3 linked regions of the Homo sapiens genome follow. The protein of the gene in region 3 purifies or fractionates together with the protein of the main gene of each other region. This does not show direct contact. Each region holds a gene or a part of one and is shown on either strand. Other genes may lie near its edges.

Region 1 (3,751 bases), on a different chromosome or scaffold from region 3:
ATGTCTAGACATGATACTTTAGCTACAGTATATAGAAAGTTGTTTGAGACGTCATACTTAAGCCACAGTTGTTTACCCCTGGAGAAATGAGAGTGTTAAAAAAGATATTAAAATCATTGATTTGTTAAGAAATTATAAGAATCTGAACTATCCTAAAAGTAATCTTTGTAAAATGAACGATAATTCCAGGTTATCTGGGATTTTCTGTAGGTTATCTAAAGGAGTAAATGGAAAAGAAATAAAAAAGATTTTATTTATCAAATAAATTTTTCAAAAAACAGAAATGAAGAGAATAGGAAAAAAGTACATACATACACAAACCTTTTTTTTTTTTTTTTTTTTTTTTTTGAGACAGAGTCTTGCTCTGTCTTCCAGGCTGGAGTGCAGTGGTACTATCCTGGCTCACTGCAGTCTCTACCTCTCTACCTCTTGGGCTCAAGCAATCCTCCCACCTCAGCCTCCAGGGACTACAGGCACATGCCACCATGCCTGGCTAATTTTTTTGTATGTTTTTGTAGAGATGGGGTTTCACCATGTTGCACAGACTGGTCTTGAACTCCTGAGCTCCAGCGATCCACCCTCTTGGGCCTCCCAAAGTGAGCCACCACGCCCAGCCTACTTTAATTCTTTGAACATATTTATAACAGCTGCTTTTTTAAGTCTTTGCTAAATATCTCTCTCAATTTCTTACTGTACTTTTCTTAAGAGCCATGCTTTCCTACTTCTTTACATGTCTAGTAATTTTTGGTGGAAAACTTGATATTTCAGATAATATATTGTAGCAACTATGTATTCTAATTTTTTGGAGAGTTGTTGGATTTGCTTTAATAACTTGGCTATGCAAATACTGATGTCTCTGCTTCATTTTTTATTCTTATATTTATTATTATTATTAAACTTGATTTCCAAAGAGTTACCCCTGTGTCTGCATATAATTTAGTGGTCAGGGCTGGGTGCGGTGGCTCACGCCTGTAATCCCAACACTTTGGGAGTCTGAGGCGGGCGGATCACCTGATGTCAGGAGTTTGTGACCAGCCTGGCCAGCATGTGACACCCTGTCTCTACTAAAAATACAAAAAAAAATTAGCCGGGTGTGGTGGCGGGCACTTGTAATCCCAGCTACTCAGGAGGCTGAGGCAGGAGAATCACTTGAACCCGGGAGGTGGAGGTTGCAGTGAGCGAGATCGTGCCACTGCATTCCATCCTGGGCAACGGAGCGAGACTCCCATCTCAAAATAATAATAATAATTTAGTGGTCACCTAATGATTTGAACAGAGGTTATGCTCAAACATCTTGATCGGGAAAAGCCTCACATTGATTTATATGTGAGTTGGGGAATGTAAATACAAAGTTGCTGCTAGTTTTCAAGTCATCCTTAGCTTTTACTTTTTGCCAGACTATTGGATCTTCCCCCTCCATTTGCATAGTAACCCAGTTAGCCAGGGATGGTAGAGAGCTTATTTCCGCCCTTTTATGGCTCTCTAGTTTCCATGATCTCCCTGTTAAATTTCTGGCTGTCTTTCATGACCAGTCAAAATTCTGGCTGGTTTTCGTGACCAACCCTGAACTAATAAAACCATTCTCATCGACCACGTTGGTGGTAGTAGTGGGTGTGTGAATAACCTCGTGCAAAGAGGCCACTGAGTCCCCCTGCCCTAACCTGAAGCTCTAGCACTTCTTCAACAATAAACGTTTCTTGTTTTCTACATTTGATCCATTTCCAGTACCCTGGAATGGTTGTTTTTCACAATCTCATTCAGGTTTGTACTTGTTTTTTGTGGAGAGGAATTACCAGCCTCTTCATGCCACCATAACTAGTAGTCCTTTTCTATGCTTATATTTGTTTACTCAGCTTCATTATTTACATCTTCTGTATCCATGTTTACTTTTCCCTTAAAGGATCTGTCAGAAACTGAGAGAGATTTTAGTCCTCTACAGTTGTGTTTTTATCAATTGATCCTTTTATTTTAAACAGTCTTGCATTGTGTATTTCTGTGTTCTATTAAAATGTTGTGTATTATACTTTTTGGTTAGTATAAAATGTATTACTTTGCCCAGTTTACAGCCATCAATGCTGTTGTTCTTAAATTTTTTACTCATGCTGGATGTTTGTTTGGATTTCTCTGATGTTATTTTAGGCTGGACTTAAATAATAGTGACACAGTTCATCTGTGTCATCAGTTCCAAGACTACTAGTTTTGGTGATTCACTAGAAAGACTCAGAATACTCAGCACATGTACTCATGGGTAAGATTTGTTACAGTGAAGGACACAAAACAAAATTGGCAAAAGAATAAGGTGCTTGGGGCAAAGTCCAGAGGAAACCACGTGCAAGTTTTCAAAAGTCCTCTCCCAATAGAGTCATGCAAGACTTTTAATTCTCCCAGAAACAAGTTGTCACAATGCTTATAAGTGTTGTCTACCAGGGAAGCTCATTAGAGACTCAGTGACCAGAGTTCTACTGGGGGCTGAGTATGTAGGCATCTTTTGCCTAGTACATACTAAAATTCCAGTCTTCCAGAGGGAAAGCAGGTGTCCAGCATTAACCACATCGTTTGCACAATCTAGACACAGTAAAACCACCATTATTAATTAGGGAACAGTGGGAACACTTCCGAAATCCAAGTTCCCAGATACCAGACAAAGGCCAACCTTGCAAGGAGGTTTTCCTAAGTATAGCAGCATCAGGCCTGCAGTATTAACTTCTTTAATTATTTTCTACACAACATCTTTGTCTTTTTTTTTAAATTGAACTACTCCTGGTGCTTCACTCATGAGTATAATGACCAAAGTTCTTTTGTTGTTTTTTTTGCAGTTAAATGATTTAAAATATTTTTCTCTTAATTTGGGAGTAATATAATTTTATTCAAATATGAAATTAGGGATCATCATTTATAGTTTTTGTTTTTGTTTCAAAAATTCTTTGTTGTTTCTCTAAGCCAAAAATAAAGTGTGTGCTTGTTTTGAAACTCTAATAGACAAAATACTGTACTATGATTTAAATTACATGCTTGGAACAGTTTTATATTTGACTATTCTTTGTATCTCCCACACATCATAATGCCTTTGTTCTTTTCTCAGCACGATTACGTGGTGTTCATGATGGTTTGTTCACTGGACAAATAGATGCTGTGGATACTCTTAATGCTACTTATAGAGTAACTTTTGATAGGACAGGGCTTGGAACCCATACCATCCCTGACTATGAAGTTCTCGTAAGTAGTATTTCATAATACATTTGTGTTTTATGCCTGTTAAATGTGTTATATAGAGTTTTTTTAGAAATCGTATTTTATGATAGAATCAAGACTTTATCTCACAGAGGAAGAGATCCTTAGGGGACCCCAGCCCTATCTGCTAGACCCCTGGTTCGGATCTATACTTAAGTCTTCCATTTGCCAGGAACTAGCATTTCTCTGTTGGACCTTAACGACACAGCACTTTAGTATAACCAAACTGATGAGTCCTGACTAAATAACCTTGGAGAAGAAGCTACATAACATTTTCATTGCAGCTGTTAGGTTAAAGTATAGTCCTCTTGCAAAATTGTTTTTAAAGTATAGTAACATCTTGTACTTATTTGTTCTCCTGTTTTATCTTCAGAGGCATGCAAGGTGGGTGTTAATTACCTTCACTTTTGCATGATGAAACTCAGACATAAGTACAATTGCGTAATTTATTCAAGGCTCTAGATCTGGTTTCCTATTAGGCTGAGACTAGAATTGAGATCTTTTTTTTTTTTTTTTTTTG
Region 2 (3,751 bases), 4.0 Mb from region 3:
AGGAATTATTCTTTTTTTTTTTTAAGAGAAGACAGGGTCTCGCTATGTTGCCCAGGCTGGTCTCAACCTCCTGGGCTCAAGCAATTCTCCCATCTTGGCCTCCCGAAGTACTGGGATTACGGGTGTGGGCCAACACACCCAGCCGATAGGAACTACTCTAAGACTAGAATCAAACACAGAGGTGCTGAGGGAAGCTGAAGGAGGAGTATGCCCAGAGGGTGCTGACCAGGAGGGGGCCTGGGGAAGGAGAGGGCACTACTCACTTCCTCTGGAAGTCAGGGATGCTGAAGAGCACCTGGACCACAGAGTTGAGGTAGCAGCTGTTACCCAGGTTCCGGATGCCTGTGTAGCCAGGCCCAAACAGGGGCTTGAGTGGCACACCTGACTCCTGGATCAGCTCCCATTCACCAATCCGCTGGTTCATGTCTATCTCCAACTCAGTCATCGTCTTGTCTGTCTGTGTGAGAAGGGGCACTTCAGACTGAGTGAGAAACTCAACCCTGTAGTTTTTACCTCGATCTCTCACTGAGTCTAGGATGATACTCAACTGTGGCCTAGAATTTGTGGAATTACAGGCTCAAACATGGGAGGTATGTTGAGTATCGTCCAGTTCAAGTTCTGGAAGGCCACACATAATTGTCCCAGAGGCCCGTTAGTCATCAGGGCCTCTGCTTGAATGAGGAATAAAATTTCCTTCTACCTGAAATGTTTTTCCCATCCTTAAGTTACCCCTAACCTCCTTCACATTGTCAGTTAAGCATCGCTTCCTCAGGGAAATGTCCCTGATCCCTAAACTAGGCCAGGCCACCCTGCTGTCAATTACTGTAGTACCCTCCGCCTCTCTTTCACAGTGCCCACCAGTTTGCAACTATTCACTTATTTATCTGGGAATGTGACTAATGTCTGCCTTTTCTTCTAGAGTAGAACTCTTGTAAGCAAAAACCACATCTGTCTTATTCACACAGCCTCTAGCACATAGTAGGTACTCAGTACTATTCACTGAATAAATGATTTTAGATATTTAAAAGAAGCCTGTGTATCTTGGGGATGGGGTTAACTAGAAGATTTCTCCAAAACCCTACCTCAGCCTCAGGCAAAGAGGAAGGGCCCTCACAGGGGCAGGAAGTAGAAGAATCTGAAGTTGAAGGGGGTCTCACCTTCTGCATCTTCAGCATGTCGATGCCGAAGTGGGACAGGTGCTCAGCCAGGCTGGGGTCCAGGACCATGTCATCCTCATCATATGAGTACACGTCTAGAGCAGGAGGCAGGAAGAGAATCAGGGGAAGTGGCTCAGGACTAGCCAGGCCACCATCCCATCCCTTGCACAGAAGGGACTTGAGGGGACAGAAGGAGAGCCAGTAAGGTCCACCCTCTTGGTTCCCTTGAATATGAGTAATATGAGTGCGGTCATGGCCCTTCTGGGGCTGACGGTCAGGGAAGACAGATGAAACCGGGTGAGGGTTGGAATTACTTGTGATTCTGATTCTACCTGTATAGGATAAGGTAAGACAGGCTTGGTAGGAAAGGGATGAGGATTTGAGTGGGGAGTAATCAAAAATTTAGTCTCATCTGCAGTATTTTCCTTTTTTGAGACAGGGTCTCTGTAGCCCAGGCTGGAGTCCAGTGGTGCAATCATAGCTCACTGCAGCCTCAACCTCCCGGGTGCTCAAACAATCCTCCTGCCTCAGCCTCCTGAGTAGGTGAGACTACAGGCAGGAGCTACCACACCCAGCCAATTTTTCTTTTTTTTTCTTTTTTGGAGAGATGAGGTCTCACTATGTTGCCCAGGCTGGTCTCGAACTCCTAGGCTCAAGCAATTCTCCTGCCTTGGCCTCCCAAAGTGTTGGGATTGCAAACATGAGCCACCGCACCTGACTACTTTCCTTTCTTATCAAGATAATGCATTCATGTATTATACATGTCACACGAAATTACTAACAAATGAAATATATTTAAGCATGAGAGTGGCTGGAGGAGGGGAGGCTGTACCAGCTCCATCAGGGGTGATGGTGCCCAGCTTGACAGCTAACGGGTAGCCTGTCTCTCGGTAGTGCTCCACAGCGTGGTTGTTGCCCCCACTGCCATCGAAGTAGCGTCGCCCACAGAGGATGGAGCCATCAGTCAGGTTGAGCCACAGGTTCTCTCTCATGTCACACTTGGAGCACTTCCAGCCACTAACCCACAGAGAAGAGAATCAGCAGAAATGTGGGTCGGGGATTTGAGGGAGTGGCAGAGAGAGAGGGCTCTGCAGGCCCCCCGCCAATCCAAGGTCTCTCTCTCTTCTCCTCTGGCCATCCCCATGTCGTGTTCATTTCCAAGCTTCCCTTCCTGTCCTGCTCCCTACCCTCTCTCCCACCAGATCCCCCAGAAAAGTGGGCTCCTTGTCCTTGCTCTGGGGGTGGTGCCCGAGGCAGAGGGGCCAGGCCTCACCAGGGAGGGATTCGAGCAGGGTTGTCCAACTGCTTGAGGCTGAAGGCATGCTTAGACACCTGCCGTACTTCCCCATCCCATGCCTGCACCTCCTGCTTGCGGGAGGCTGAGTCGGCCGACAGTAGGGCCTCCACTGCACTGGTCACCTGGGGGAAGCAGAGGGTCAGAGGCAATACCCAACCCCCTGCCCCACATGCCCCTCTTCCCCTTGGCCTTCAGCTTTGTCAGTGCTTGCCTAAGACACCACTACCCTGGCCCATCTTGCTCTAGAATCTTGGGTAGCATAGGGGGCAGTCATACCCGATCTCTGACAATGTCAGGCAGTCCCCCCAGTCCATCCCGGGCAATCTCCAGGTAATCTGGCAAAATGACAATCTTCACATCCTCGTCTAATTCAAACTTCTCCTCGCTAAGGTCAAATCCGCCTTCAACACCTGGAAGGATAGGGAAGAAGAGGGAGAGTAGAGCAATGACAACAGGTCAATGTCCCTCCTCCGAGCCAGCACCTCACTTGCCCCATCCAGAGTTCTAGGGCCATCAATCAGGCCCACTCTTTGGGGCTTTCCTGGTGCTGCTGAGAGCCAGAAAGACCAGCTCAGGGAGAAGAATAGGACTGCAGCGGTGCTCACCAATAGCCAGCCGCGTGGGCTTCTTCCGGGGTGGGTCTCCAGTGCCTGTAGCAGGGTCCTCCTCTTTCTGTAAAGAAGCAGGAAGGGCTGGATCAGCAATGAGCACGAGCGAAGGAACAAGTCGGGAGGAGGGACGGAAGGAGGTAGTGCTTCATCTCAGAACGGAATAAAGCTAAAAAACATCTGTGCCAAGCTTTAATGACACAAAAGTAGGTGAAAAAAAGAAACTGAGTCCAATAGGAGGTCAGAATGGAACAGACAATGTACCCAGGCCTTGCCCCAGCCCTGCTCCTACCGGGCGCCGGGTCCGCCGGAGGTGCAAGTAGACTCGCTGGCCGGTCTTATTGAAATGTCTCTCCACATACTGTTTCCCAAAGCCCAGAAACGTGTTCATACAGATGTAGAGGCCCCCCTCAGACTCCTGTGGGACAAGAGGTAAGGGTGAAAACACGAGGATGTTATGAAGCCTGGTCAGGTGAGGAAACCAAAACCTGGAGTCAGAAACTGCTGGGTTCCAGAAGAAATGTTCTGTTCTCTAACACTGTGTGGCCCTTGGCAAGTTATTTAGCCTTTTAGGACCTGGGACATAGCTAAGATTCTCCCCATTTCCTCCCATGACTTTGATAACAACCAACAAGGACATCAGGGGGCTGAGGAACACCAGCTCATCGTCGCCATTCAACAGCAACACC
Region 3 (3,146 bases):
AGAGATGGGATCTCACTATGTTGCTCAGGCTGGTCTCAAACTGGCCTCAGTGTCTTGCAGTGCTGGGATTACAGGCATTGTTTGTTGTTTCTTAACTTTGTTTATGGTATCTCTTGCCACAGTAAAATTTTAAAGTTTTATGTAGTCAAATGTCTCTCTTCTCTTTTACAGTTTCTGGGTTTCCAGTCTTGGTTAAGAAGGTCACCCGCACCCTCAGATTGTATATGTAGTCTCCTAGATTCTCTTTCAGGATTTGTATGATTTTAAGGTTTTCATTTTTTTTTTAAAGCCAGTCAAATTTAGCAGTTGGGGGTTGTGTACCAACTTTAGTGACAATAATGTCACTACCCGCTACCATCAGAGCAGCCTAAGGTTCTTATTTTCATGCATTAAATCTTTGTATACAGTGTAAGACAAGCATGCAATTTTATTTCCTCTCGGATGAATGCTATTATAATTATGCCACTACATACTACATACCCGCATCTTTTACCCCCAGAATTGAACTACCAACTTCAACATACATCGTATTCTCATATTTAATAGATTTTAAGACTTCAAAACGACACAAAGAGGATCAGAACCCGTATGTGATATTTTTGTGCGTCCTGTCTGGTGACCGTTGGTTCACCTTATCTCTGTTTCCCTTTCAGGTGCTGCTAGCTGAGGAGGGGATAGCTCCTCTTTCTTCTGCAGGACCAGGGAAAGAGGAGAAACTCCTGTTTGGAGAAGGGTTTTCTCCTTTGCTTCCAGTTCAGACTATCAAGGAGGAAGAAATCCAGCCTGGGGAGGAAATGCCACACTTAGCGAGACCCATCAAAGTGGAGAGCCCTCCCTTGGAAGAGTGGCCCTCCCCGGCCCCATCTTTCAAAGAGGAATCATCTCACTCCTGGGAGGATTCGTCCCAATCTCCCACCCCAAGACCCAAGAAGTCCTACAGTGGGCTTAGGTCCCCAACCCGGTGTGTCTCGGAAATGCTTGTGATTCAACACAGGGAGAGGAGGGAGAGGAGCCGGTCTCGGAGAAAACAGCATCTACTGCCTCCCTGTGTGGATGAGCCGGAGCTGCTCTTCTCAGAGGGGCCCAGTACTTCCCGCTGGGCCGCAGAGCTCCCGTTCCCAGCAGACTCCTCTGACCCTGCCTCCCAGCTCAGCTACTCCCAGGAAGTGGGAGGACCTTTTAAGACACCCATTAAGGAAACGCTGCCCATCTCCTCCACCCCGAGCAAATCTGTCCTCCCCAGAACCCCTGAATCCTGGAGGCTCACGCCCCCAGCCAAAGTAGGGGGACTGGATTTCAGCCCAGTACAAACCTCCCAGGGTGCCTCTGACCCCTTGCCTGACCCCCTGGGGCTGATGGATCTCAGCACCACTCCCTTGCAAAGTGCTCCCCCCCTTGAATCACCGCAAAGGCTCCTCAGTTCAGAACCCTTAGACCTCATCTCCGTCCCCTTTGGCAACTCTTCTCCCTCAGATATAGACGTCCCCAAGCCAGGCTCCCCGGAGCCACAGGTTTCTGGCCTTGCAGCCAATCGTTCTCTGACAGAAGGCCTGGTCCTGGACACAATGAATGACAGCCTCAGCAAGATCCTGCTGGACATCAGCTTTCCTGGCCTGGACGAGGACCCACTGGGCCCTGACAACATCAACTGGTCCCAGTTTATTCCTGAGCTACAGTAGAGCCCTGCCCTTGCCCCTGTGCTCAAGCTGTCCACCATCCCGGGCACTCCAAGGCTCAGTGCACCCCAAGCCTCTGAGTGAGGACAGCAGGCAGGGACTGTTCTGCTCCTCATAGCTCCCTGCTGCCTGATTATGCAAAAGTAGCAGTCACACCCTAGCCACTGCTGGGACCTTGTGTTCCCCAAGAGTATCTGATTCCTCTGCTGTCCCTGCCAGGAGCTGAAGGGTGGGAACAACAAAGGCAATGGTGAAAAGAGATTAGGAACCCCCCAGCCTGTTTCCATTCTCTGCCCAGCAGTCTCTTACCTTCCCTGATCTTTGCAGGGTGGTCCGTGTAAATAGTATAAATTCTCCAAATTATCCTCTAATTATAAATGTAAGCTTATTTCCTTAGATCATTATCCAGAGACTGCCAGAAGGTGGGTAGGATGACCTGGGGTTTCAATTGACTTCTGTTCCTTGCTTTTAGTTTTGATAGAAGGGAAGACCTGCAGTGCACGGTTTCTTCCAGGCTGAGGTACCTGGATCTTGGGTTCTTCACTGCAGGGACCCAGACAAGTGGATCTGCTTGCCAGAGTCCTTTTTGCCCCTCCCTGCCACCTCCCCGTGTTTCCAAGTCAGCTTTCCTGCAAGAAGAAATCCTGGTTAAAAAAGTCTTTTGTATTGGGTCAGGAGTTGAATTTGGGGTGGGAGGATGGATGCAACTGAAGCAGAGTGTGGGTGCCCAGATGTGCGCTATTAGATGTTTCTCTGATAATGTCCCCAATCATACCAGGGAGACTGGCATTGACGAGAACTCAGGTGGAGGCTTGAGAAGGCCGAAAGGGCCCCTGACCTGCCTGGCTTCCTTAGCTTGCCCCTCAGCTTTGCAAAGAGCCACCCTAGGCCCCAGCTGACCGCATGGGTGTGAGCCAGCTTGAGAACACTAACTACTCAATAAAAGCGAAGGTGGACATGCTGGGCTCTGTGGTTTATTGGCGTCTGATTCCTAAGGCACCAGGAGAGGCTGGAAAAGAAAGAGGGTGTTGATGGAGACGATGGTGATAGGGAAGAGGCAAGGCCTGAAGTTCACCCAAAGCAGCAGTTGGAGCACTTGCACAGGCACACACTTGACAACACAAATTGCCAGTTTTCCCAGTGCTAGTCCTGCACAGCTCACCTCTTTTCCCTGGCGTCTCTGACCTTGTTCCTTGGGACCTTTGGACCTGCTGGTTAACTTAGGCCTTTTGAGGGTTCTTAATAAGACAAGCTCACGAGGGGTAGGGCCCCCTGAACATTAGGGCAGGAAGGGCCCAGTTACAGGTGCTTCATTCCCACTGCCATCCCCACCCTGAGGCCTGGGAGCCAGCCTGCCCTGCTTTTCTTCTGCCCGGCAGCAGCTCCTGTTACAGTTTTTTGCAGTCAGAACTTGAAGAAAGTGCTATCCCCTGCCTGTCTAACCTGAAAAGTAGCCAGGGGCCCAAGGGT

What was found.
Region 1: the proteins of FOXM1 (region 3) and LIN9 purify together in Homo sapiens (affinity purification with western blotting; 2 studies listed by BioGRID and IntAct, with this or other methods). This does not show direct contact.
Region 2: the proteins of FOXM1 (region 3) and USP5 purify together in Homo sapiens (affinity purification with western blotting; 2 studies listed by BioGRID). This does not show direct contact.

What each region holds. Positions count from the first base shown.
Region 1 is NC_000001.11:226,267,422-226,271,172, reverse strand, and holds part of LIN9 (protein lin-9 homolog), read left to right. Parts: intron 1-3,082; coding exon 3,083-3,216; intron 3,217-3,751. UniProt on the Homo sapiens protein: Acts as a tumor suppressor. Inhibits DNA synthesis. Its ability to inhibit oncogenic transformation is mediated through its association with RB1. Plays a role in the expression of genes required for the G1/S transition.
Region 2 is NC_000012.12:6,855,130-6,858,880, reverse strand, and holds part of USP5 (ubiquitin carboxyl-terminal hydrolase 5), read right to left. Parts: intron 3,527-3,751; exon of another isoform or gene 3,481-3,526; coding exon 3,355-3,480; intron 3,253-3,354; exon of another isoform or gene 3,127-3,252; coding exon 3,060-3,126; intron 2,865-3,059; coding exon 2,731-2,864; intron 2,577-2,730; coding exon 2,431-2,576; intron 2,175-2,430; coding exon 1,990-2,174; intron 1,253-1,989; coding exon 1,158-1,252; intron 458-1,157; coding exon 264-457; intron 1-263. UniProt on the Homo sapiens protein: Deubiquitinating enzyme that participates in a wide range of cellular processes by specifically cleaving isopeptide bonds between ubiquitin and substrate proteins or ubiquitin itself.
Region 3 is NC_000012.12:2,857,171-2,860,316, reverse strand, and holds the end of FOXM1 (forkhead box protein M1), read left to right. Parts: intron 1-525; exon of another isoform or gene 526-653; coding exon 654-1,679; 3' UTR 1,680-2,637; downstream 2,638-3,146. UniProt on the Homo sapiens protein: Transcription factor regulating the expression of cell cycle genes essential for DNA replication and mitosis. Plays a role in the control of cell proliferation. Also plays a role in DNA break repair, participating in the DNA damage checkpoint response.